Homo sapiens: one gene and its partners. The protein of the gene in region 1 purifies or fractionates together with the protein of each later gene. This does not show direct contact. Each region holds a gene or a part of one and is shown in the gene's direction. Other genes may lie near its edges.

Region 1 (3,500 bases):
GTCTTGGACTCCTGGGTTCAAGTGATCTTCCTGCTTCAGCTTCCTAGAGTGTTGGGATTACAGGTGTGAGCCACTGTACCTGCCCTGTAATTTTTAATTTTTTTTTCCCCTGAATATTTTCTGTCTGAGGTTGGTTGAATCAGAATTTAAAACCCATGGATGTGGAGGGTCAGCTGTATTTGAAAATGGATACAATATACCTAAGTGCCTAAGCACTGAAATTTCTTACTTTCAGGATAACCACCTTATGATGAATGCAGTTGCCCATTTTCTTGAAGACTTTTTCTTGTGGTTTTTTTCTTTCTTTTTTTTTTGAGCCGGAGTCTCGCTCCGTCGCCAGGCTGGAGTGCAGTGGCGTGACCTCAGCTCACTGCAACCTCCTCCTCCTGGATTCAAGCGATTCTCCTGCCTCAGCCTCCTGAGTAGCTGGGGCTACAGGCGCGCGCCACCAAGCCCAGCTAATTTTTGTATTTTTTTAGTAGAGACAGGGTTTCACTATGTTGACCAGGATGGTCTTGATCTCTTGACCTCGTGATCCACCCGCCTCGGCCTCCCAAAGTGCTGGGATCACAGGCGTGAACCACTGCGCCCAGCTCTTTAAGACTTTTTCTTATCCCAGTGCAGAGGTCAGGATTATTCCCGCATTTGAGTGCACTTAGAGGAGATAAGGAATTTGTCTCAGATTGCGAGCCAGTAAATGGGGGCTGTTAAAACCACTAGGTTGTTTCAAACTCATCATTCTGACATTACAGAGATCTTGCTTAGTGTTGATGGCCCTAGCCAATGGGTTAGTTATCCTTTCCAGTGTGTTTGGTCAGCTGCAAATCTGGATAAGCGTGTCTCCTCCACTTTGTCTGTGTTTACCAGTGGAGACCTCCCACCAGGTGGACATAAATGGTTCATTCTTTTGTGCTAATTGGGTGCCGTAATCCAGCCCCTTGGGAATCTGCCCACCCACACAAGGATGTGCTCAAGATTTTCAGGATTCTTTCTCTCTGCATTCCCTGAAGAGGAAATAATAAAGGAGAAAATAAAATCCACCAGTTTGGTAACCTTCCCAGAAAAGGAAATGAAGTTGGTGTGGCATGACTTGTTCTTAACGAGCTTTCTTTTCTTTTTTTTTTTTTTGAGACGGAGTTTTGCTCTTTTTGCCCAGGCTGGAGTGCAATGGCGCAATACTGGCTCACTGCGAACTCCGCCTCCCAGGTTCAAGCAATTCTGCTACCTCAGCCTCCCAAGTAGCTGGGTTTACAGGCATGCACCACCACGCCCCTCTAATTTTTTGTATTTTTAGTAGAGATAGGGTTTCACCACATTGGTCAGCTGGTCTTGAACTCCAGACCTCATGTGATCCACCTGCCTCGGCCTCCCAAAGTGCTGGGATTACAGGCATGAGCCACATGATTTGGTTCACAATTTAAAATCCGTGCTTTTGGGGAGACGTGACAACTCTGAATCCTGGAAATAGCAGTTTGAAAAGGGATCTTGTTTGAATTTTTGACAACTTAAGACTGAGTCTGGATTAATTTAGAGTTTCCAAAACTACCACTGAACCTAGAATTTGGGGATATTTGACATTCAGCTTCAGAACTAGGATCCCACATTTAATAGTGCTTAACTTCAGATTTTCTGTTTTACTTTTTTTTTTTAAAGGAGTCTTGCTCTGTCACCCACGCTGGAGTGCAGTGGCACAATCTTGGCTCACTGCAACCTCCACCTCGGGCTCAAGCGATTCTCATGCCTCAGTTTCTCAAGTAGCTGGGATTACAGGCACGTGCCACCATGCCCAGCTAATTTTTGTATTTTTAGTAGAGACGGGGTTTTGCCATGATGGCCAGGCTGGTCTCGAACTCCTGACCTAGGGTGATCCACCTGTCTCCACCTCCCAAGTGCTGGAATTACAGGTGTGAGCCACCTCACCTGGCCTAAATTCAGTATTCCTTAATGTTCTTTTTCTGAAGACAATCTGGACTTTTGCCTTTTTATAGTACCATAACATTTTCGCCTAAATTGCTCATTTGTATGTGTGTTTCACCATTACTAGAATATAGAGAAATTGGCCAGGTGTATTGGCTCATGCCTGTAATCCCAGTACTTTGGGAGGCCAAGGCAGGTGGATAGCTTGAGCTCAGGGGTTTGAGACCAGCCTGGGCAACATGGTGAAACCTTATCTCTACTAAAAATACAAAAATTAGCCAGGCGTGGTGGCATGTGCCTGTAGTCCAGCTACTTGTGAGGCTGAGGCAGGAGGATTGCTTGAGCCTGGGAGGCAGGTTGTAGTGAGCTGAGATGATGGCACTGCATTTCATCCTGGGCAACAGAATGAGACCTTGTCTCAAAAGAAAAAAAAAAAAAGTATAGAGAAATTGACTTGAGTGCTAGTTACAGGGCTGTGTACACTTATGATTTGTGCACTTTTCTCTATGGTATACTTTAAAAGTGGCTTTTAAAAATGTAGAAAAGTCATCTTCCTTCATGTCTTTGGAAAATTATGCTAATTGTGTTGGTGTTATTAACATTCTATATATTTCCATCTTTGAGGATTTATCTAATACATAGTTGGGCAGGGTTTAATTCTGAGAGATTTGAAATACACTGTCCTAAAGGGTATAGAAGAGAGTTGCCAGGTGGGGCGTGGTGGCTCATGCCTGTAATCCCAGCACTTTGGGAGGCCAAGGAGGGCAGATTGCCTGAGCTCAGGAGTTTGACACCAGACTGTGCAACATGGTGAAACCCCATCTTTACTAAAAATACAAACAATTAGCCGGGCGTGGCAGCGTGCGCCTGTAGTCCCAGCTACTCGGGAGGCTGAGGCAGGAGAATCGCTTGAAGCCGGGAGGCGGAGATTGCAGTGAGCTGAGATCATGCCATTGCATTCCATCCTGGTGACAGAGCGAGACTCGGCTCAAAAAAAAAAAAAAGAGTTGCCATTAATTTAAAAAAAAGTTTTAAGAGTCTGAATTGATGTACTGTTGTTAATATATTAATGTATGATTGTACAGACCGTATTAGAAAAGGAAAAAAAATCAGATACTTTAATGTACTCATTATAGATGTTACTCAAGTGTCATTCAGGGATCATACCTTTTAAAGTTACTCTGATACTTTTCCGTTACCTTCAACTTGAAAGCACAAGAGGTTTTGCAGGCAGAGATATCCATGGTCCAATCTGGTTCCTGTAAACATTCAACAAATTATCTGGACGTCTACTATGTGCCAGGCATTGATTTAATCAGTGAACAAAACATGCAAAAATTCCTGCTCACATGGAATTTACCTTCCAGTAGATCTCAAAGTTCCCTACTCTACTAATCACTGGTATAACCTGGAAAGAATTTATTGTTGGTTCAACATAGCTAAGGAGTGGCATGAAGTTCTGTAGCTGATGTGGGAAGTACCTTGCCAGTGTCTCCAGCACTGGGTTTTCTAGAATAATCCTCAAGCTTTATAGGTTAGGGGGTTGTGTGTTTACCACATCTTGCTGAGACTTGTCTTTTTCC
Region 2 (3,500 bases), on another chromosome or scaffold:
CCATCCAAGACCCCTGTCATCTCCATGACAGATGCTGGGAACAGGCTCAGCAGTGGACACAGTCAGGTCTTGTGTTGGGGATGGGGCCAGGAGCCCTAAGAGCAGGCTCCAGTTCGCCCTGCTTCCTCCTGCAGAGGCCAGGTGGTCTTGAAGAGGGGACACGAGTCTGTCCTCATCCTGGAACTGTAAGGGATGCAGGGACATAGGCCAATCTGGCTGGACCCCTGGTGGCTTCCCAGACAACATAGTAAAACTCCGTCTCTACTAAAAATACAAAAAATTAGCCAGGCGTGGTGGTAGGCGCCTGTAATCCCAGCTACTCAGGAGGGGCAGGGTGCAGGTGGGGGTTGGGTGGAGTCGCCCAGTCCTGTTTGGTTGGAACTTTCCATCAGGGTCTCTGTGGTTGACATCTTGTTGCATTTCAGGCTTTTCGGTTCCTTGGTTCTGGACACCACGGAGGCCACTCCAACTCTTTGCTGTAGCTTTAGACAATGCTGTGGGGCAGGTGGGGTGGGGGCATGATCCTTTTGTGTGGTGAGTCCGGGAGGCACACAGGATGAAGCCTCAAGCTCCCATTCACTTTTAAAAACTCCTGACGCCCTCAGCTGCCTCTGAGTTTTTGAGCTTGAGCAGAGGAAATCAAGGAAATTGAGGCTGGCTTCTGATCACATGCCTTTACTTCATCCCCAGCTATTCACGGAGCTTTGCCAACTTAAAATATCCTCATTTGCCCGATGAGGATATTAAAATAAAAAACAGACACCCATTCAACCACCATCTCATATCGTCACCACTTCACAGAGGTAGGGGACATTTTAATGCCCCGGATTTTGGAAGGACGCGGTCTCACAATAAAAGACAGTATTGTAGATGGAATCGGGCCGGCTTTGTAGAGGTCCCTGGATCCTGCTTTGCTTTCACCCTATTTTGTTGCAACCCAGTGGAAATTTTGCCAGAGCAATGCCCTTACACAGGGTGGGATTGGGGAAGCCTGCTCTTAACTGCAGGCCAAATCCTCCATTCAGTTTATAAATGAAAAAACTGAGGCCCGGACTTGCTCCGGGTGGGAAAACTCTCAACCATGAGATCAGAAGCAGACTCCAGGCCTCCCGGTTCCCAGCCCCCAGTCTCCCCTCTGTGACAGTCTGCTTGCTCAGCAACCTGGGAATTAAGATCCTCGTGGCTCACAGGCTGCTGGGGATGGGATCAGGCATTGCCCAAAGCTTCTGCGATGTTTACAGCTAGCAGGCTGACATTCTGGAAGCTTCCACCCAAGGAGTGGTACAGAATCTCTCTGAGCATCTGTAGTCTTAGAAAGAGCACGTGGCCATATCCTTCCTGGGTGTCCAGGGCATGGTCCCCGCAGGCCATGTGACCTGTGTTTCTCTGCATGCCTTGGAACATGGGGCATGCCGCTGATCTACACCATAATCTTTATGGAGGTTTAACTCACCTGGAAAAAATTTAGTTTTAGCAGCTGTCCCAGGCAACAAACGGTATCTGAGGCCTGTGAACTGAGCCAGCTCCATCCATCTGCACCAGTTACTCCGGCAGGCATGTGTCTCTCCTGAAGAGAGGTGGTGGATGTGGTGGCGTGTTGGCCATCGGGCACCGTGTCAGCCTGGAGGAGTGTGTGGTTCCTTTGAAAAAGAATGTTCTCCCAATCCTGGTGTGATAACTTTTCCTTTTGTTTAATTTTGAAGCTTCTGTTTTTTCCTGTGGTCAGTGTGCTAATGTAAGCACTTTTCCTGGATTATCTCATCAATCTTCCCCCATTTTTTTTTTTTTTGAGACAGAGTTTCGCTCTTGTTGCCCAGGCTAGAGTGCAATGGCATGATCTCAGCTCACTGCAACCTCTGCCTCCTGGGTTCAAGTGATTCTCCTGCCTCAGCCTCCCGAGTAGCTGGGATTACAGGCATACGTCACCATGCCTGGTTAATTTTGTATTTTTAGTAGAGACGGGCTTTCTCCATGTTGGTCAGGCTGGTCTCAAACTCCCAACCTCAGGTGATCCACCTGCCTCGGCCTCTCAAAGTGCTGGGATTACAGGCATGAGCCACCATGCCTGGCTTTTTTTTTTTTTTTAGACAGTCTCACTCTGTCACCCAGGATGGAGTACAGTGGCACGATCTTGGCTCACTGCAACCTCTGCCTCCCGGGTTCAAGTGATTCTCTCACCTCAGCCTCCTGAGTAGCTGGGATTTCAGGTGCCCGCCACCATGCCCAGCTAATTTTTGTATTTTTAGTGGAGACTGGGTTTTACCATGTTGGCCAGGCTGGTCTCGAACTCCTGGACTGAAGTGATGTCTGCCCACTTCAGCCTCCCAAAGTGCTGAGATTACACCCATGAGCCACTGCTCCCGGCCTCTTCCCCCATTTTTACAGATGAAGGAAGTGAGCCTCCTTGAGTCTTAGTAAGGGAGGGAGCTGGATTCAAGGCTGAGCAGTTTTAACCCGCAGCGTTGCCTTCCCTGGGAACATTCGAGTTGAAGGTTAACGAGATTTTGCAAGAGTTTGCTCTTGGTTTATATCTAATATTATGCTTTGGATCTAACTCACATGGTCAGATGCAGGGGTCAGATTGAGACTGGTTGATTGAAACTCCTCCGAAACAACAGGAAATGATCTGGGAGAGAAGATTCCAGGTCCCCTGAGGCCCTGCTTCTCTCTTGATCCCCCACAGCCCAGTGTCGAGTTACCAGCGAGTGCCTGTTCTGCTTGGGTGGGTGTCCAGTGTGGTACTGGTCAGAGGTAATTTTTGGATCTCAGAGCTGCTCACAGCTGTTGGCGGTCTGGGATGGAAGAAGCAGGCGTGGCTTCGGTTGGCCCACATTATCCTCCTGACTCACAGTGTTCCAGGGCTGCTCAGCTGCCCTAGGGTTTGTGTACAAATGGCCTTGATTTGACACCCTTCTGAAGGTGGGGGGCCTGACTGATCAGGCAGTTGGTTGGATGCTGTTGACCCCCGCAGAACTCTTGGTACCTATGAGGCGTGGAGTTGGCGTGGGGGATCTGTTAGCCCCAGTCCCCTTTTTGCCCCCACCCCAGCCTGGCCGAGAGTCCTGGGCAGGCACTGAGAAGGCAACACATGGGGTAGGACTTGATGAGCAGGTGGATAGGACAGTGAGGTGGGAGGTGCCTCTGTGGGCCTCAGATGGTCCCCAGCCTGTGTGATGGGGCAGCGAAGCTCAGGACACCTGGTGTTTGGATATCCACAGGTGACCGGATCCCCAGGCAAATGAGCAGCTGGAAGTCCCTGCAGGGATGCGGGAGGCACAGCCAGGGTGGGGCTGGACCCCAGGCCCTTCCCCACTCCCATCGCCCCACCCTCACAGGACACACGGGGGAGCTGTGATCCTCAGGGTGTTCTTTTGTTTTTAGTTTTTTTGTTTTGAGACAGGGTCTCCCCCTGTCCCCCAGGCTGGAGTGTAGTGGTGCAGTCGTGGCCCACTGCAAGCTTGAACTCCTGGGCTCAAGCGATCCTCCCACCTCTGCCTTCC
Region 3 (3,500 bases), on another chromosome or scaffold:
AATAGGACAAGAAGCCAGATCTCTTTATATATATATAGGTAGATATAATTTTTCCTCCTTAAAATATAAATAATTTTAATTATATATAATTATTTTAATATAGATATTTTAAATCTTATAATTTATATATATATATAATTTATATATATATATATATCCAAAGTAGTGGTGCACAAACTTTTCAACTCTGTGTCCTTTCTCTTGTCTAATTCAACAGACATTGATGAATGCAGAACCTCAAGCTACCTGTGTCAATATCAATGTGTCAATGAACCTGGGAAATTCTCATGTATGTGCCCCCAGGGATACCAAGTGGTGAGAAGTAGAACATGTCAAGGTAAGTTTATTTTTTTTTTCATATGTTAGGTATTTAGTTTTAGCCAGGAAGAGACAAGAGGAAGTTATAGGATTCTCCTATAGACTTTCATTTTTCCCACTTTCAATATACAATTTAAGCTCTTTTTTCCCCTGTTCATCATAAAATATATACATCTCATAAAGAGGTGATTCTATGCTAATGCCGACATTTTTCGTCCTTAAAAGATAAATAATTTTAATAAAATATTGATATGTATTCTATGTAACCTACATCATCTCTTTGAGATACATCTTCAAATCATCCACTGGAAAAGATTCAGTTATTAAAATGTTTCACCTGTGAGTTTGAGTTTAGAGCATAAGCTCAATATGTGAGTTAAACATACCTCCATCCAGTCTTAGCCCTCTAAAACACAAGGATTATAAATTGCGTAAGAATGTAGGTGCTGAGAAAAGTCAGCCTAATATGTTGTAAAATATAGTTGAATATTTTAGAGAAAACTACTAGCCCCAAAATAGCTAATGACCTTGGGTCCAGTTTCAAAATAAACATTCAGATGATCTTCACACCTATACGTAAGTGGAAGAGGCAGCTCCCCACAATGGTATGATTTCAGAGTTTCTCAGGAAGATCTAAAAAAAAAAAGGACCCTACCTCCAATGTTGCATGTAGTTGAAAATTTTCTTAACAGGGAAAGGACTGTCAGATAAAACCAAAAACGTAGAAAATCCTGGAAAAGCTAGTACAAACACTTAAATTTACACAAAGCAACAAAAGAATGAAAAAATGACCAAACTTGACAGAAAACCTGTTTGAATCCCAGCTCCACTGTATTCAGTCTGCACAATCTTGAACAAATTATCAAACTACTCTGAGCCTCAGCTTCCTCATTTGGAAAAGGGAGTTGTGGGAATTTAGTGGAATAACATACATAAAAATAATTTGTAAACTATAAAGCTTGTACAGGTCAAGGTGTTTTTATGAAATTTACTTACCAATGTAAGTGACCAGTAGTACGTCTTCTGTAGAGAGTCCTTTTTAATCAGAGTTGGAGTGAAGGCACACAAGGACAATAAAGATCCTGTTAAGAAAAGAAAGATCAAGGAAAGGAGACACTGGGGATTCTCAGTCTATATCATGATTTTACAGGAAAATATTAACTTAGAGGAAATCCATTACCTGGGATTTTATAATAGGCACACAATTTTTCGACTAGACTCCAACCACTGAGTATGAGCATAATCAGAATGTAGTTCATTGCACAATGAACATCTTTATAACCCTTTCCAGGTTACTAGAGACTTTATAAATGTTAATTATGGGAAAACATTGCATTCCAATGATTTTACTTACTGAACCCTAATTGAGACTTTCAACATGCATATTACATGCAAGAAAATGTTAGCTAGTGGAATGTCTTAACAAATTTCTCTGGAGTCCTTCAAACAAATATCTATGTGTTTCTGATCAAAAATTGATTTGATGCTCAGCAAAAGACAGAAGCAGATTAATGCACGGTGGGATCCGACCTGCCTAGCCTATCTATGTGGAAACATTTATATCTATTGTAATTAAAGGTGGAAAATGCACCAAAATTGTAAGTGGGGGATTCCTAAATGTTATATATTGAAGATATGCAGCTTCAGAATGTTTGGTTAAGCCAAAACATTTTTTGTGAAAAAGACTTAGCATTCTTCTAAAGTATAAAGCAATTGCTTTCTCCTACGGAAATCGTTCCTTCTGAGCCTTGTCCACAGGAATAAAATGAAATTGAAAGTTTTGGATTCTTAACTTTCTCTAAAAGACTTATTTTGTGGATGAAATAACTGTTCTCATTTCACAGGCCTATACAAATGAAAACTGTGTGTGTGTGTGTGTGTGTGTGTGTGTGTGTGTGGAGAGAGAGACAGAGAGACAAAAGAATACACATACACATAGACACACACTCATCAAATATTTTGAGAGTATTAATTTCTGAAAAATCTTCCAGAATGATTAAGGTGATGATTATGCTAGGCTCTACATTAATGGAAGTAATAAATGAAATTATAAGGTTGTCTTTTGCTTCTGTTGGACTCCATATAACAAATAAGTATTAGTTTTCCCTGTACCTAAACAGCATCTTTATTCTTCAAAAAAGTGGAAAATACTGAAAGGATAAGTCAATTGTGATTTCATTTGAAGAATCTAAGTTTTCTTTCTTCAGCCATAGCCAGCCCAAGAAGACACTTTTTGTAACTGTCTCTTGGAGACTACCTAGCTTTCCCAGTCTGTTCTTGAGTTCCAGATAACTTTAGCCAGTTTGGAAGCTAAAATACTTTTTTTTCCTCCAAAGTCAAGGCATGAATTATTTAGAGTATATGAACTTGAATGAGCCACTAAACCCTTATTTGTTTTTCATCCATATCAAGTGGAAATATCTTTCTCACCTACCTCCACACAGTTTGTGTGAAGAGCAACTTAGTTCAATTTAATATTTCTTAAAAGCCAGATGCTCTATTGCATTAATGCTAGGTGATGAAAGGATTAAAAGATGGGTACAATAACCCTTGCCCTCAAGGAGTTTACAAGCTAATAGAAGGGTTAAGCTAGACATGCAGATTGCAATAATGCAAAGCAGAAAGCAATAAAGGCCCTTAAAAAAGAACACCGGGTATGAGAATTCAAAAGAGATCATATCCCAGCACCTAGCCCATGCTTGGCTTACAGCAAGGATTCAGTAAATTACTTATGGAATGAGTAAATTCATGAATAAAAATATCTCATTGTGGAGAAGGAATGATTCAGAAAAAGTTTACATTGAATAAAATATAAATCACTATTCAAATGTAAAGGGAGACAGACATAGAGATGTAGATATTAATTTTATTTTTATTGTTGTTGTTGTTGTTGTTATAAATGTAATGGCTCTCTAGTAAAACTGTTCTCTCAGATGTCATCTGGAGGCTTCTGATTCCCAAATTTAAAGTCAATCTTTGTCCAGCCTGAGGTAAACACAACCCTTCTTCCCAGGATTCTCTCTCCCTCTGACTTCTTTGGCATTGCCTTTTCCTGGGTTGTCTCCCTGCACTGACAGCCTCTTCCTTAACTTCCTCTTTTTCCTTACAGTCCTAAAATTGCTATGCTCTATGAGGTGGAACACTTCATAGTTTCACTTCCTGTGCTGTGCTTCCTCTGGACA
Region 4 (3,500 bases), on another chromosome or scaffold:
GAGTAGCTGACTTTTCCTTCTTTCCAAAATCTTGCAAAGAATCAACTCAGCAACTGTTCTTGCCATTCCTCTTATCTTGACCTTATTTCTCTGTCCCAGTGAGACTTGCAAGTGAGATACCACGCTTGACAGCACTTATTAAATAAATTTTTGTGGTTTACAACACACCTTGACATACAATATAGTAATAACGTTCCGGCTTCAAAGCACCTTTCAGAATATATAGCGTGGGTGGTACTGCTCCCACTTACACATTAGGAGCTGAGGTTCAGTGAGGCTGTGTGATCTGCTGGATGGAGCAGGGCTGCGGCAGCACTCGGGACTCTGATGATAAGTCCATCACCTGGACCATCCTCCATCCTGCTTCACTTTGCATGAGAACCTGGGAACAGTCATCCTTCCTGGGGTGCCCAGAACTCATCCTCACAGGACCTCAGATGAGCCCATTGCAAGCACCCATTTCCATGTTTAAACCTAAGCCCAAGTTGTTTTCACTGCCGCTTTTTTACGTGATGTATTGAAGCAGAGGTCGGCTAAATCCAGCCTCCTGCCTGTTTTTTATAAATAAGTTTTGTTTGTTTGTTTTTGAGACAGGGTCTTGCTGCGTCACCCAGGCTGGAGTGCAGTGGCTCAATCTCATCTCACTGCAACCTCCGCCTTCAAGCGATTCTTCTGCCTCAGCCTCCCGAGTAGCTGGGACTACAGGCATGCCCCACCACACCCAGCTAATTTTTGTATTTTTAGTAGAGACGGGGTTTCACCATGTTGGCCAGATCTCAATCTCTTGACCTCGTGAACCACCTGCCTCAGCCTCATGTTCTATTAATAGCAGCAGAGTTGAGGAGGTGAGACAGACATCCTGCAGCTTGGAAAGCTGAATATGTTATCTGACCCTTCATTTTAAAAGTTTGCTGACCTCTTACAAGTACTAAAACCTCCATTTTCAGGCCCTCAAAAGCATTCATATTTATTCCCAGTATTCTCCCTTGACCACATCTTTCTGCATCTGCAGTGGGAGCGATGCAGCCTCAATCCGGAGCAGAGCCACACTAAGTGAAGACAAGAAGCACTACATCCTCAATGGCTCCAAGGTAGGGTTCCTTCCCCATGGCCACATTAGGGTCTCAGTCACAACCTTCACTGCCACTGAGTGAGCACTCTCCACACACCAGGGATTGTACCTGCTGCTGTAGCACCGACTACCTTCTTGAGCTGCTTTTATGTGTTTGTTTTTAATTTTTTTTAGTTTTTTTTATTTGCGATGGAGTCTCTGTCACCCAGGCTGGAGTGCAGTGGTGTAATCTCAGCTCACTGAAACTTCTGCCTCCCAGGTTTCCAATGATTCTCCTGCCTTAGCCTCCTGGGTAGCTGGGATTAGAGGTGCGTGTCACCACTCCTGGCTAATTTTTGTATTTTCAGTAGAGATGGAGTTTCACCATGTTGTCCAGTCAGGTCTTGAACTCCTGACCTCAAGTGATCTGCCCACCTCGGCCTCCCAAAGTGCTGAGTTTACAGGCAATGAGCCACTGTGCCCGGCTTGTAAACCCAAAAAATCTTTAAATTTTTTGTTACACAAAGTTTCAGACATATTCTGTGTGCCTGGCTGGCCCTAACTCCGGCAGTCACCTGCTTATGGCCACTGTGCCTCTTCCAGCAGCATCGCCACCTCCAGATCGCATGGTAACAATCTCAGCATGCCTCTCTAAAAGACAGGAGTTTTTTTTGTTTGTTTTTGTTTTTTAATAAACACAAAGCCGTAATACCCTTATCACATTTTAAAAATTGATAATTTCTCTTTTCTTTTGAGACAGGGTCCCGCTCTGTCACCCAGGCTGGAGTGCAGTGGCACGATCTTGGCTCACTGCAGCCTCAACTTCCTGGGCTCAGGTGATTCTCCTACCTCAACCTCCCAAGCAGCTGGGAGTACAGGCACACAGCTAACTCTTTGTATTTTTTTTTTGGTAGAGATGGGTTTTCACCGTGTTGCCCAGGTTGGTCTCAAACTCCGGGGCTCAAGTGGTCTGCCCACCTCGGCCTCCCAAAGTGCTGGGATTACAGGCGTGAGCCACTGTGCCCAGCTAATAATTTCTTACTTCTATCAGCATTCAAATATCCCTGATTGCCTCATACCTTTTTTTGGTTTAACTGTTTGCTTGAATTAAGATCCACACAAGTCCCATCTGTTGCTGTTTGTTAAGGAGTCTGTTTCTGCCTCTGTCTCCCTCTGTTTCCTTTCCTCCTCCTCACCACCCTCCCGCCTTTTTTCATTTCTTTGTAGAATTAACAAATAAATGTTGTGTGTATTTACATCTACAACATGATGTTTTTATATATGTATACCTTAAGAAATGATTAAACCCTTTCTTTCTTGAAGAAATGCAGTTGTCTGGCGGTGGAGCCTGAGCTGTCTGACAACTTTGGGTGTTCTTTCCCCCGCCCCCGCCTCCACCTGGCCATCCATGTCCCTTGGGAAAATCCTTGCTCTGGGGAAAGTGGGCTGAGCCCTGTCCTCTATTCACTCATGCTTGGTTGGCTTCTGCAGAGCCAAGGACCCTGCATGTCTGGCCTGAGGTCTGACTGGCAGCTGGAGCTTGATGGACAAAGACAGAGCTGAGGTGGGTCACATAGGGGTTTGGTTTTCTCCAAAGTCCATCTTTCTGTCCTCAGGTCTGGATTACTAATGGAGGACTGGCCAATATTTTTACTGTGTTTGCAAAGACTGAGGTCGTTGATTCTGATGGATCAGTGAAAGACAAAATCACAGCATTCATAGTAGAAAGAGACTTTGGTGGAGTCACTAATGGGAAACCCGAAGATAAATTAGGCATTCGGGGCTCCAACAGTAAGTAGCTCCTGTGCGCGCGTGCGCGTGTGTGTGTGTAAGGGGGAGACTGGCCTTTGACGGTGTGTGTGTGTGTGTGTGTGTGTGTGTGTGTGTGTGTGTAAGGGGGAGACTGGCCCTTGACTCTGTCCAAATAGCAAGATAAAATGAGATTTAAACACTTTCAGTTTTTGTTAAGCATTTTAAAAAGATCAAATTAAGAATGCCACTTGGGCTTTGTCTTTGTTCCTGCAGCTGAGTGCTGCTCACTTGAAGGCCTGCTGGTCATCCCCTGCTGTAGCTGCCCTAGCAGACACACCACCTTAGAGCTCAGCTTACAGTCCCCAGCCTTTAGTTGTCTCAGTCTGCAGTGCCTGGCAGCCTGCTTCAGGCTGTGAGTTGGGTTCAGGTCCATCTGGGTTCAGGTCCATCTGGAGGCTTGTTCTTAGAGCAGATCATAAGCACCTAAGGGGCCAAGCCAAGCCATATAAGTACTATTTTTGCCGTGGGAGACATAGTCTCCCTCTGTCACCCAGCCTGGAATGCAGTGCTGTGATCTCAGCTCACTGCAACCTCTGCCTCCTGGGTTCGAGTGATTCTCCTGTCTCAGCCTCCCAAGTAATTGGGACTACAGGCGTGCACCACCACACCTGGCTAATTTTTGTATTTTTTGTAGAGA
Region 5 (3,500 bases), on another chromosome or scaffold:
TCATTTTATGCAGTTGCCCACTGCTTTTTGGTTGTTTTCAGAAAAGCAAAGGAGAAATAATGACTTATTTTGCAAACTTTTTTTTTTTTTAACTTTTTTAGAGACAAAGTGTTGCTCTGTAGCCCAGGCTGGAATCCAGCAGTACAGTCATAGCTCACTGAGCCTTGACCTCCTGGGCTCCAAGCATGGTTGAGGAATAGCTGGGACCACAGGCACACACCACCATGCCCGGCTAATTTTAAGATATTTTAAATTTTTTTGTAGAGATGGCAGTCTCACTGTGTTGCCCAGGCTGGTCTTGAACTCCTGGGCTCAAGCGATCCTCTTGCCTTGGCTTCCCAAAGGGCTGGGATTATAGTCATGAGCCACTACACCTGGCCCACTTGCTCACTTCTAAAATAAGGTTTTAAATTTTTCATTAAGAAGTTGTATACTAAGCACATCATGAATGTATAACACAGCTGTTACGCATGTGGACACCTGTGTAGCCTTCACCTAGAGGGAGGTAGAGGATGCATTCAGCCTTCCAGGTTTCCTCAGGAGACCTGTCTCCCACAGCACCGTGTCTGATTTCTGTCTGCCAAGACTGTTCTTGAGCTTTATATATGTGGAGTCACACGCGTGGTCTTTTGTGTCTGGCTTCTTTTGCTCACCATCACCATCAGGTCAGCAAGGTTGACCGTGCTGTTGCATAAAGCAGTTGTTCATTTATTTTGAGAAAGTCTCACTGTTGCCCAGGCTGGAGTGCGTTGACATGTTCTCGGCTCACTGTAGCCTCTGCCTCCCGGGCTTAAGCAATCCTCCTGCCACAGCCTCCCAAGTAGCAGGGATGACACGCATGTGCCACCACGCCTAGCTAATTTTTTGTTATTTTATTTATTTATTTTTTTAGAGCTGGGGTTTTGCCATGTCACCCACGATGGTCTTGAACTCCTGGACTCAAGCGATCCACCGACTTTAGCCTCTCAAAGCACTGGGGTTACAGGATTTTGCCACTGCACCCGATTTTATATATTTATTTAATTATTGTTTCTTATTTATTTATTTATGAGACGGAGTCTCGCTGTGTTGCCCAGGCTGGAGTGCAGTGGCACCACCTCGGCTCACTGCAACTTCTGCCTCCCAGGTTCAAGCAATTCTCCTGCCTTAGCCTCCCGAGTAGCTGGGATTACAGGTACTTGCCACCACGCCTGGCTAATTTTTGTATTTTTAGTAGAGATGGGGTTTCACCATATTGGCCAGGCTGGTCTCGAACTTCTGACCTCGTGATCCGCCCGCCTTGGCCTCCCAAAGTGCTGGGATTACAGGTGTGAGCCACCGCGCCCAGCCTGTTTTTTGTTTTTTCTTGAAATGGAGTTTCGCTCTTGTTGCCCAAGCTGGAGTGCAGTGGTGCTATCTTGGCTCACTGCAACCTCTGCCTCCCAAGATCAAGCGATTCTCCTGCCTCAGCCTCCTGAGTAGCTGGGATTACAGGCGCATGCCACAATGCCTGGCTAATTTTTTGTATTTTTAGTAGAGATGGTGTTTCACCATGTTGGCCAGGCTGGTCTCAAACTCCTGACCTTGTGATCTGCCCGCCTTGGCCTCTCAAAATGGTAAGATTATAGGTGGGAGCCACCATGCCCGGCCTTATTTATTTATTTTTAAATGGAGTCTCACTCTGTCTCCCAGGCTGGAGTACAGTGGCGTGCTCTTGGCTCACTATCACCTCTGCCTCCCTGATCCACGGGATCCTCCCACCTCAGCCTCCTGAGTAGCTGGGATTACAGGTGTGCACCGCCACACCTGGCCAGTTGTTTTGTGTTTTTAGTAGAAACAGGTTTCATCATGTTGGCCAGGCTGGTCTCGAACCCCTGACCTCGGGTGGTCCACCTGCCTCAGCCTCCCATAGTGCCGGGATTATAGGCGTGAGCCACCACACCTGGCCTCATTTCTCTTTTATTTCAGTGTATGTGGTAGTCCCGCTGTGTGAGCGTGCCATAGTTGATGTATGCATTTCACTGTGCGTGGGTATTCGCACTATTTCCTGCTTCACAATCTTTTTAGCTGCGATACCAAAGTCCAGAGAGCTCTGGAAACGAAAGTGTTTCATGATCCGTTCGGCACAAAGTCTGACCCAGACTGAAGTGAGGTCGTTCACATGGTGTCTGTTGGTCCCACAGTAGTGTGGCTGTTGGCACGACTCTGCCCAGCGCGTTCTCTTATGTGTTGTATGTGCGTTATTTTCCTGGTCTGAACTCAGGAAAATTCTGAATTCCAAAACACAAGGGCCCCAGGAGTTGTGGACCTGGGACTGCCTCTTGGCTTGGGGTGTGATCAGGCATAGCAATGGCTTACCTGCTTTCCTTTCTTTCGTGTAAATACCTTGAGGGCCGGTTAAAGACTAATCTCTGATTACACTGTAAATACTGTTAACACACCTTTGAAAGGCCTTGCCAGAGCTAGGTCCAGCTGCCTCAGAGGGTGAGGAGATATGAATGGCCCTGGCATCTTTCCTGGCAGATTTCTCCTTGGTTCAGACGGAGCTTAGCTGTGATAGCTGACTCTTCCCCTAGGAGCCCTGGGTGGGTTTCTGTGGCTCTGTGAAGGCCCTGGAATCCCCTGCAGAATCAAAGTTGTGCCTTTTTTTGAGGTCAGTGACCAAGACACCCCCTGCAGAGCCTTAAGGGGGCCATGACTCCTCAAGCCCAGGACTTGAGCCTGAGCTAGGGAGAGCCTCAGAGACCTTGGTCCCCCCGCCCCCACTATTAATTTCAACTTGTTGAAAGGGAGTTTGTTTTCGTATTATAAAATACAAACATACCAAAGGGTGCAGATTGAACGATAATGTTCCCTCCGCCCTGTCCTTTTGCTCCTGGTGGTGTGGAACCTGGGTGCCCCTCCCAAGAGAGCCCGGGCCTACACAGGCCCTTGCGTGGATCTCTTCCCTTCTTGCAGAGGTGATAAACTACTGCTCCAGGCTGTTAGTACCAGCGTGAGGTTTTACAGTCAGAAATACACATTTCAAACTAGTACTAAGACCCCCTTCATTGTGATTTAACTAATGTGGTTTTCTTGGCCATGTTACTTTAGATTTTAGTTGTAAAGAAATAGACAGGGCTCCAGGATGCCAGGCGATGCCCATGGCGGCTGTGGTGCCTGTAGCTGCCATTTCCTCTTTTATTTGGATTGAGATGGAGCTCCTACACTGTGCAGCCCCCTTCATATCGCACAGTTCAGTGGCCTTCGGCCCATTCACAGTGCTGGGCGACCACCTCTGTCCAGCTCCAGAACGTCTTCATTGCCCCAGAAGGAAAACCCATAGCCTTCAGGTGGTCCCTCTCCATCCCTCCCTCCACCCCTGGCAACCCACAATCCACTCCGTCTCTCTGGATTTGCCCATTCTGGATGATTCACGTCGATGGAACCGTAGGCTGTGTGGCGTTCTGTGCTGGCGTCTGTCGCTGAGCGCAGTACCTCCGCGGCTGGTCCCCGTCACAGCGTGGGTCTGTGTTCATTCC
Region 6 (3,500 bases), on another chromosome or scaffold:
ATGTTGCTCAGGCTGGTCTTGAACTCCTAGGCTCAAGTGATCCTCCTGCCTCAGCCTCCCAAAATACTAGGACTATAGGCATAAGCCACTGTGCTCAACCTCAGCATATGTTTTTTGAGACATAGAAGTAACAAGCTTAGTAGAGGTAGTCTGTAGATAAATGAAGTACTTACCAAGTCTCAAAGATTTTAAACCACTAAAAGCCTGTGAAATGCTTCTATAGTTTACAGGGAAGCTGTGAATTCAATATAGATGAATAGGGTTTTAACATTTTAGCTAAAACCCATCTCTGTTTGGATTCAACTGGAGTCCAGAGGTATTTATTCTCTTTTATATTCTCCAGGGCACCAAAATTCTGAATTGCAGTTCTTTGGAGATTACTTTAGAAGTTAAATACAGGCTGGGCACAGTGACTCACGCCTGTAATCCCAGCACTTTGGGAGGCCGAGGCGGGCAGATCACCTGAGGTGAGGAGTTCTACAATAGCCCGGCCAACATGGCGAAACCCCATCTGTACTAAAAATACAATAAAAAATTAGCCAGGTATGGTGGTGGGTGCCTGTAATCCCAGCTCCTCAGGAGGCTGAGGCACAAGAATCGCTTGAACACGGGCGGCAGAGGTTGGCAGTGAGCTGAGATCATGCCACTGCGCTCCAGCCTGGGCGACAGAGCAAGACTCCGTCTCAATAAAAAGAAAAAAAAAAAAAGAAGAAGAAGTTAAATGCAACCCAGTTCCAGGTTTGTCAGAATGAAAGAAGAAAAATTCTGACTTGGTCTATAGTATTAACCAGGGACTTGAGCTAGCAAAGAGCAAATTTATTAATTTAAAGAAGAGACTATTTCATAATAATTTTCCTAGTTGGAAATCTTTAAGGGGTATAATTTTACTTTTAAGGGAAATTAAAACCAAATGATTCTGGGTTAATATGAAATCTCAAGTTCTTGCTTGATTTCCTTAGCGCCAGCAGAGACTTCAGAAGGAACGCCTCATGAATGACTTCTCTGCAGCCTTAAACAATTTCCAGGCTGTGCAGAGAAGGGTATCTGAAAAGGAAAAGGAGAGTATTGCCAGAGCAAGAGCTGGATCTCGTCTTTCTGTAAGTTGATTCCCAAAAGAAGACCTTTGCAATATCAGAATGTTCTTTTCCAAGTTTGTGGGTTTTTTTCTTTTTCTCTTTGACCAATAAACATGTAAGTTAGCTGCTGTGAAAATGGCAGGTTGGTGTAACCTATGTAAAAAACATATATGCATGTGATCAAAGCCTAGAAAGGAATCTGAATGAAGGTTAAGAGATATAGGAGGAAGAACTATGTCTAATTTTCTTTTTCATTTTGATATATTGGTTTTAACGTTAAAAACTTGAAAATAAAAATAATGAATCTGTTTCCTGGAATATAACAGGCTAGTTTATTTGGACTAGCCCTCTGTTTTTGAAAAGGATTTTCAAATACTGGATTTTAAAAATCCAACTTCTCAAAAGTATCAAAGATTATGAAAATATTAAGGTAAAGCCTGAGAGGTCAGCAGAATACTGAAACTGCTTTTGCATTGAATGTCTTTACTGAAGGCAAACTTGAACTTCAGTTTTGATATCCTCATGGCATGGGGAGGATAAAAGTCAAAGCCAAAGGTCCATGCAAGAGAGAGAATATAAAAGAAGGTACAACTCAAATTAAACTGGGCCCTAAGAGACTATATCCTTAGAACATTAAGTCAAAAGTAAGCTCTTCTATCCCCCGGCAGATTACAGAAAGATTGCATTAGCACTGAACTGAGCAGATGGAGGAGGAGGGCAGGAGGGAGGAGAAATCTAGACAAGGTTACCACAAAGTAACCTTCTTCAGGCAGATTTTCTGCTCAAATTCATCCTACCTGAATGGTTCAGTGGTCCTGGACTGGGAGAGCCACCTATGTGTGGGATAGAAGCAAACACAAATTCCTTCTGTAGAAAGACACCTTTATCCTAGCCCTGAAATAATACTCTCAAATAATTTTTCTAGGGCAGTAAGTACCAGTCACTAAAAATAACCATGTGTGCAAAGAAACAAATTACTCTGAACAAGAATTAGTAGAAACAACAATGAAGTGAAATATACCTACAAAGACTTTTTATATTAGAATTATAAGACAACTATACTTATTGTGTTTAAAGACATAAAAGGCTGAAAACCTCTGCAGGAAACTACACAAAGATTTGAAAAAGTGTCAAAAGAATTTCTAAAATGGAAAGATATAATATAGAAATTTAAAAACTTAGTGGATGGGTGGTTTAACTAAAAAATTGGTTAGAATATATTATCCAGCATGTAGCATAGGGGGTTAAGAGGTTAAATACGGAAGAAAGATTATGAAAAATGGAGAATGGAGAGAAAAGATCTAACGTAGTTTTAACTGGAGTTATAGAGTGAGAATAGGGCAAACATAGAACAGAGGTGATATTTGAAGAAATAATGAGTGATAATATTCTAGAACTGATTAAAAACACTAGCCTGCAGTTTCAAGAAGCCTAACAAATCCCAAGCAGGATAAATAAAATCTCTAATCTAGATACATCAAAGACAAACTTCAGACCAGAGACAAAGAGAAAAATCATAAAGATAGCTAGAGAAACATTAGAATACCTTCAAAGATACAATAGTTAGATTGACAGTTGACTTCTCAACAACAGTGGAAGCCAGTAGAGTGCTATCTTGAATGTTGATGAAGGACAATAACTGCCTACCTAGGATTCTAAACCCAGTGAAAATATATGTCAGAATGAGGGCTAATTAAAGACATTTTCAATCAAAAGAGAGTTTTCTGTCAGCACATCTTATTGAAGGAAATTCTAAATAATGTATTTCAGATGGAAGGAAAGTGATCTCAGATGGAAAGTCTGAAAAGCAGAAAGAAATGAAGAACAAAAAAAGTGGTAAAGATGTGAAAAGACTAGTCACAGGGAGAAGACATTGCTATATATATTTAATAGCAAAGGACTAGCATTTAGAATATATAAAGAATTCGGCCAGGCGTGGTGGCTCACACCTGTAATCCCAGCACTTTGGGAGGCCAAGGTGGGCAGATCACGAGGTCAGGAGTTCAAGACCAGCCTGGCCAACATGGTGAAACCCTGTCTCTACTAAAAATACAAAATTAGCTGGGCGTGGTAGCGCGTGCCTGTAATCCCAGCTACTCTGGAGGCTGAGGCAGGAGAATCGCTTGAACCAGGGAGACAGAGGTTGCAGTGAGCTGAGATTGTGCCCCTGTGCTCCAGCCTGGGCGACACAACAAGATTGTATCTCAAAAAACAAAAAACAAAACAAAAAAAACCCCAGAATTCCCATGAATCAATATGAAAAAGAAAGATACAACTCAATAGAACAAAAGTTGTCAAACTTTTTAATCTCAGGAACCCATTACACTCTTAAAAATCATTAAATTCTGTGGCCGGGCGCAGTGGCTCATGCCTGTAATCCCAGCACTTTGGGAGGCCGAGGCGGGTGGATCACCTGAGGTCAGG
Region 7 (2,706 bases), on another chromosome or scaffold:
TAAAAATCACCTTTTAAGCTAGAGCGTCCTTACAACTTTGAAATGTGCAATAAAGAATACCTGTGTTTTAGCTAATGTAGCATATGTAATTGCAAAATGATTTAGAATGTCATGAAAAATATGAACATTTCCTGTGGAAATGCTTTAAGAACATGTATTTCCATTATCCTATTTTTAGTGTACACCAGCTGAATACGGAGCAATGGTGTTTATAAGCGTTTTTTTAAACTATCTGGTCACAAAGACTGTTACGCTAAAAATGTTTACTAAAAGATCACTAAACTATCTCCCCTCTTGCTGAAGTTCTTTGTAGTAATAGCTCATAAAAATTTGTTTATTAATATTTCCCAAGTGTCTGTTGACTCATTGGACTGTTATGAGGCTTGTGCCATTTGGGGAACATGTAAACTCAGGCTCCCAGAACTGAAGATGGTGGCTGGTGGCACACTTCCGGCTGCTCCTCCGTCACCTGTGAACTCTACAAGTGACGTCTTTTTATTTCAAAGAAGTTTATTTCCCACTTGTATAGCATTCACATGCTTTCTTTACGATCCTCATTGTCTATTTGAGAATGGTTTTCTGAGAGTGAGTTTACATTAGTAGCAAGAGTTGTTTGACCTGATGTTCCATTGTTTTTACCATTCCTGTAGAAAAAGGGTGCACAACAGAAAAATGAAAATGATGTGTCATGGCCATAAAAGTATAGAAATCTTTAAAAATTTTAAAATGTACAGTCCCTTATCTATCTTTCCCATTCCTTGCCACTGATTTTTGAGGAATATAATAAAAAGATTGGAAGAGTATAATGCCATGAGAAAGAATGATTTAGGACTGTGAGGGTTATAACATGCCCTAGGTCAGCAACCAAGGGTTGAAATCAGTTCTGTTTTAGGGGGAAATGGGGGCGACAGATATTATTCCAAAATTAATATTAATTAATATTTAAACGTTGGTGTTTTTATTTAAAAATCAGTAACTAACCATCTGGAATTGCACCATACTTAAAGTCTTATCCATTACTACACTGTCTTTAAAACAATGTTTCTTTAAATACTCTACAACGTTTCTAAGAACGAACTTCAGACATTTTAATTACAGTAATAATAGCACTCCTTTTAAGGAGTTTCAGATCCACACTAAAACTAAAATCATAAAAGGCTGATACTTTTGTTTGCTGCTAGGCTATATTCTTCCATTCTTTGAAGTCCTATGATGTAATATTTTTGAAACCTAGTGTATGTCTTGTCACTGTTGTGATATTTAATCGATTAAGAATACCTTGTAAAAAGGAGCAAAAGCTTCAATGTGAAACAATTTTCTCTCTTTATACTAAACAACTGAAGATAGATAGTTTAGAAAGATAAGGACCTTTGAAAGAAGACAACTCTGTCAAAGTTCATAAGGAATATAAAAATTCTTCAGGAAAAGAGAATTCAATCTATATGTCCTCCCGTTTAATATCAAGAATAGAAGAAATTAAGAGGAAAACTCCACAGAAGAGCATAGGCCACTTTTAGCCATGTAAAAATAAGATTAAGTCACAAATACAACTTTTGAATTTACCTGTCAATATCTCTTTAGGACACAAAACAATGCTGAAGTTAATATAATTTCTAATTTTAAATGTCATTTAAGTGTAGATTATGCCATCTAGGAAGGTAAGTAGGAAAGGTAAATTAAATCTATTTTTAAAATTCAAAATATTAGAGTATTTTTCCCCTCTAAAGCCTTTTTTGGTGATTATTCTGTATCTGACATAATTGAGAAACTGGTAAGCTGTAAAGATTCCAGTGTAGCTTCTCTGAGAAGTTGTGAGCCAGTCCATAACTGCTTCCTCACATCCATCTGATTGCACCATTTCTGCAGCAAACCCCAAAGCAGGGTGCCAATATGCAGATGGCATAGGGAGTATCATCCCTCAGCCAAATCACTTTTCCATCTCTAAAGTTTCATCTATTTTGGAAGTCATCTCCAACTAATTGTGTCTGGATTTAGTTGCTAAAATTGTCTTATTTATGAAGCAGCAATATTCAGCCTGAAAGCATTTCTGCCATAGTTGTTGTAGTTATATCGCCAATGGCTGATTTTTTTCATTGGAAAGTAAATTTAAGTAATTCGTGGGATGTGGTATATTCTGTGTCAACTTCAAGATAATCACTCATTTTCTCGTTATATTCAGGTCTGAATTAAAGTTAAGTTAATCACACAGTGTTCAATTTAAGCTTCTTTAATGTTGATGAAAGGTATTTGTAGTTCATATAAACTATACTTATGTGAAGGATAGCAGATGCTTCATATAAATTATCATTTTGATATACATATCTTATGGTTTATGAGAAAAGAGAAAAAATAATACATCGGTTTTGCTACACTTTAATGGGTTTTTTTTTTAAGGGATTTTTTTTCAGGTCTTGTCAGCAACATCAAACAAAAGGTACTGAGTACTCCACAGGGTACAGAGTGCTGCCAAGCACCTTAGAAAAATTACATGACACGGAGAAAATGCGCCTCTTGCTCCTTGAAGAGCTTACAGTCTAGGGATTTGACAACTCACAGTCTTAGGAACTGGGCAAAGTAAGGCAAATTCTTCATCCCCTAGAGCTATTGTGGACTGAATCATTTTAGAATTTGGAATTAATCCAATCAAGATGAGAGACAAGACTAAATTTGGCTGAGAATTCATTCAGGCTCGCATAGTTTTTATTA

What was found.
Region 2: the proteins of OCLN (region 1) and FBLN1 purify together in Homo sapiens (affinity purification with mass spectrometry; 2 studies listed by BioGRID and IntAct, with this or other methods). This does not show direct contact.
Region 3: the proteins of OCLN (region 1) and EFEMP1 purify together in Homo sapiens (affinity purification with mass spectrometry; 2 studies listed by BioGRID and IntAct, with this or other methods). This does not show direct contact.
Region 4: the proteins of OCLN (region 1) and ACAD9 purify together in Homo sapiens (affinity purification with mass spectrometry; one large-scale study listed by BioGRID and IntAct). This does not show direct contact.
Region 5: the proteins of OCLN (region 1) and EPN1 purify together in Homo sapiens (affinity purification with western blotting, with the first as the bait; one study listed by BioGRID). This does not show direct contact.
Region 6: the proteins of OCLN (region 1) and STX12 purify together in Homo sapiens (co-immunoprecipitation; one large-scale study listed by IntAct). This does not show direct contact.
Region 7: the proteins of OCLN (region 1) and MIA3 purify together in Homo sapiens (affinity purification with mass spectrometry; one large-scale study listed by BioGRID and IntAct). This does not show direct contact.

The regions. Positions count from the first base shown.
Region 1 is NC_000005.10:69,499,290-69,502,789, forward strand, and holds part of OCLN (occludin), read left to right. Parts: intron 1-3,500. UniProt on the Homo sapiens protein: May play a role in the formation and regulation of the tight junction (TJ) paracellular permeability barrier.
Region 2 is NC_000022.11:45,509,383-45,512,882, forward strand, and holds part of FBLN1 (fibulin-1 isoform D precursor), read left to right. Parts: intron 1-3,500. UniProt on the Homo sapiens protein: Incorporated into fibronectin-containing matrix fibers. May play a role in cell adhesion and migration along protein fibers within the extracellular matrix (ECM).
Region 3 is NC_000002.12:55,871,783-55,875,282, reverse strand, and holds part of EFEMP1 (EGF-containing fibulin-like extracellular matrix protein 1 precursor), read left to right. Parts: intron 1-217; coding exon 218-337; intron 338-1,314; exon of another isoform or gene 1,315-1,400; intron 1,401-3,500. UniProt on the Homo sapiens protein: Binds EGFR, the EGF receptor, inducing EGFR autophosphorylation and the activation of downstream signaling pathways. May play a role in cell adhesion and migration. May function as a negative regulator of chondrocyte differentiation.
Region 4 is NC_000003.12:128,896,620-128,900,119, forward strand, and holds part of ACAD9 (complex I assembly factor ACAD9, mitochondrial), read left to right. Parts: intron 1-1,012; coding exon 1,013-1,091; intron 1,092-2,667; coding exon 2,668-2,842; intron 2,843-3,500. UniProt on the Homo sapiens protein: As part of the MCIA complex, primarily participates in the assembly of the mitochondrial complex I and therefore plays a role in oxidative phosphorylation.
Region 5 is NC_000019.10:55,681,726-55,685,225, forward strand, and holds part of EPN1 (epsin-1), read left to right. Parts: intron 1-3,500. UniProt on the Homo sapiens protein: Binds to membranes enriched in phosphatidylinositol 4,5-bisphosphate (PtdIns(4,5)P2). Modifies membrane curvature and facilitates the formation of clathrin-coated invaginations. Regulates receptor-mediated endocytosis.
Region 6 is NC_000001.11:27,800,719-27,804,218, forward strand, and holds part of STX12 (syntaxin-12), read left to right. Parts: intron 1-959; coding exon 960-1,097; intron 1,098-3,500. UniProt on the Homo sapiens protein: SNARE promoting fusion of transport vesicles with target membranes. Together with SNARE STX6, promotes movement of vesicles from endosomes to the cell membrane, and may therefore function in the endocytic recycling pathway.
Region 7 is NC_000001.11:222,665,802-222,668,507, forward strand, and holds the end of MIA3 (transport and Golgi organization protein 1 homolog isoform 1 precursor), read left to right. Parts: 3' UTR 1-2,206; downstream 2,207-2,706.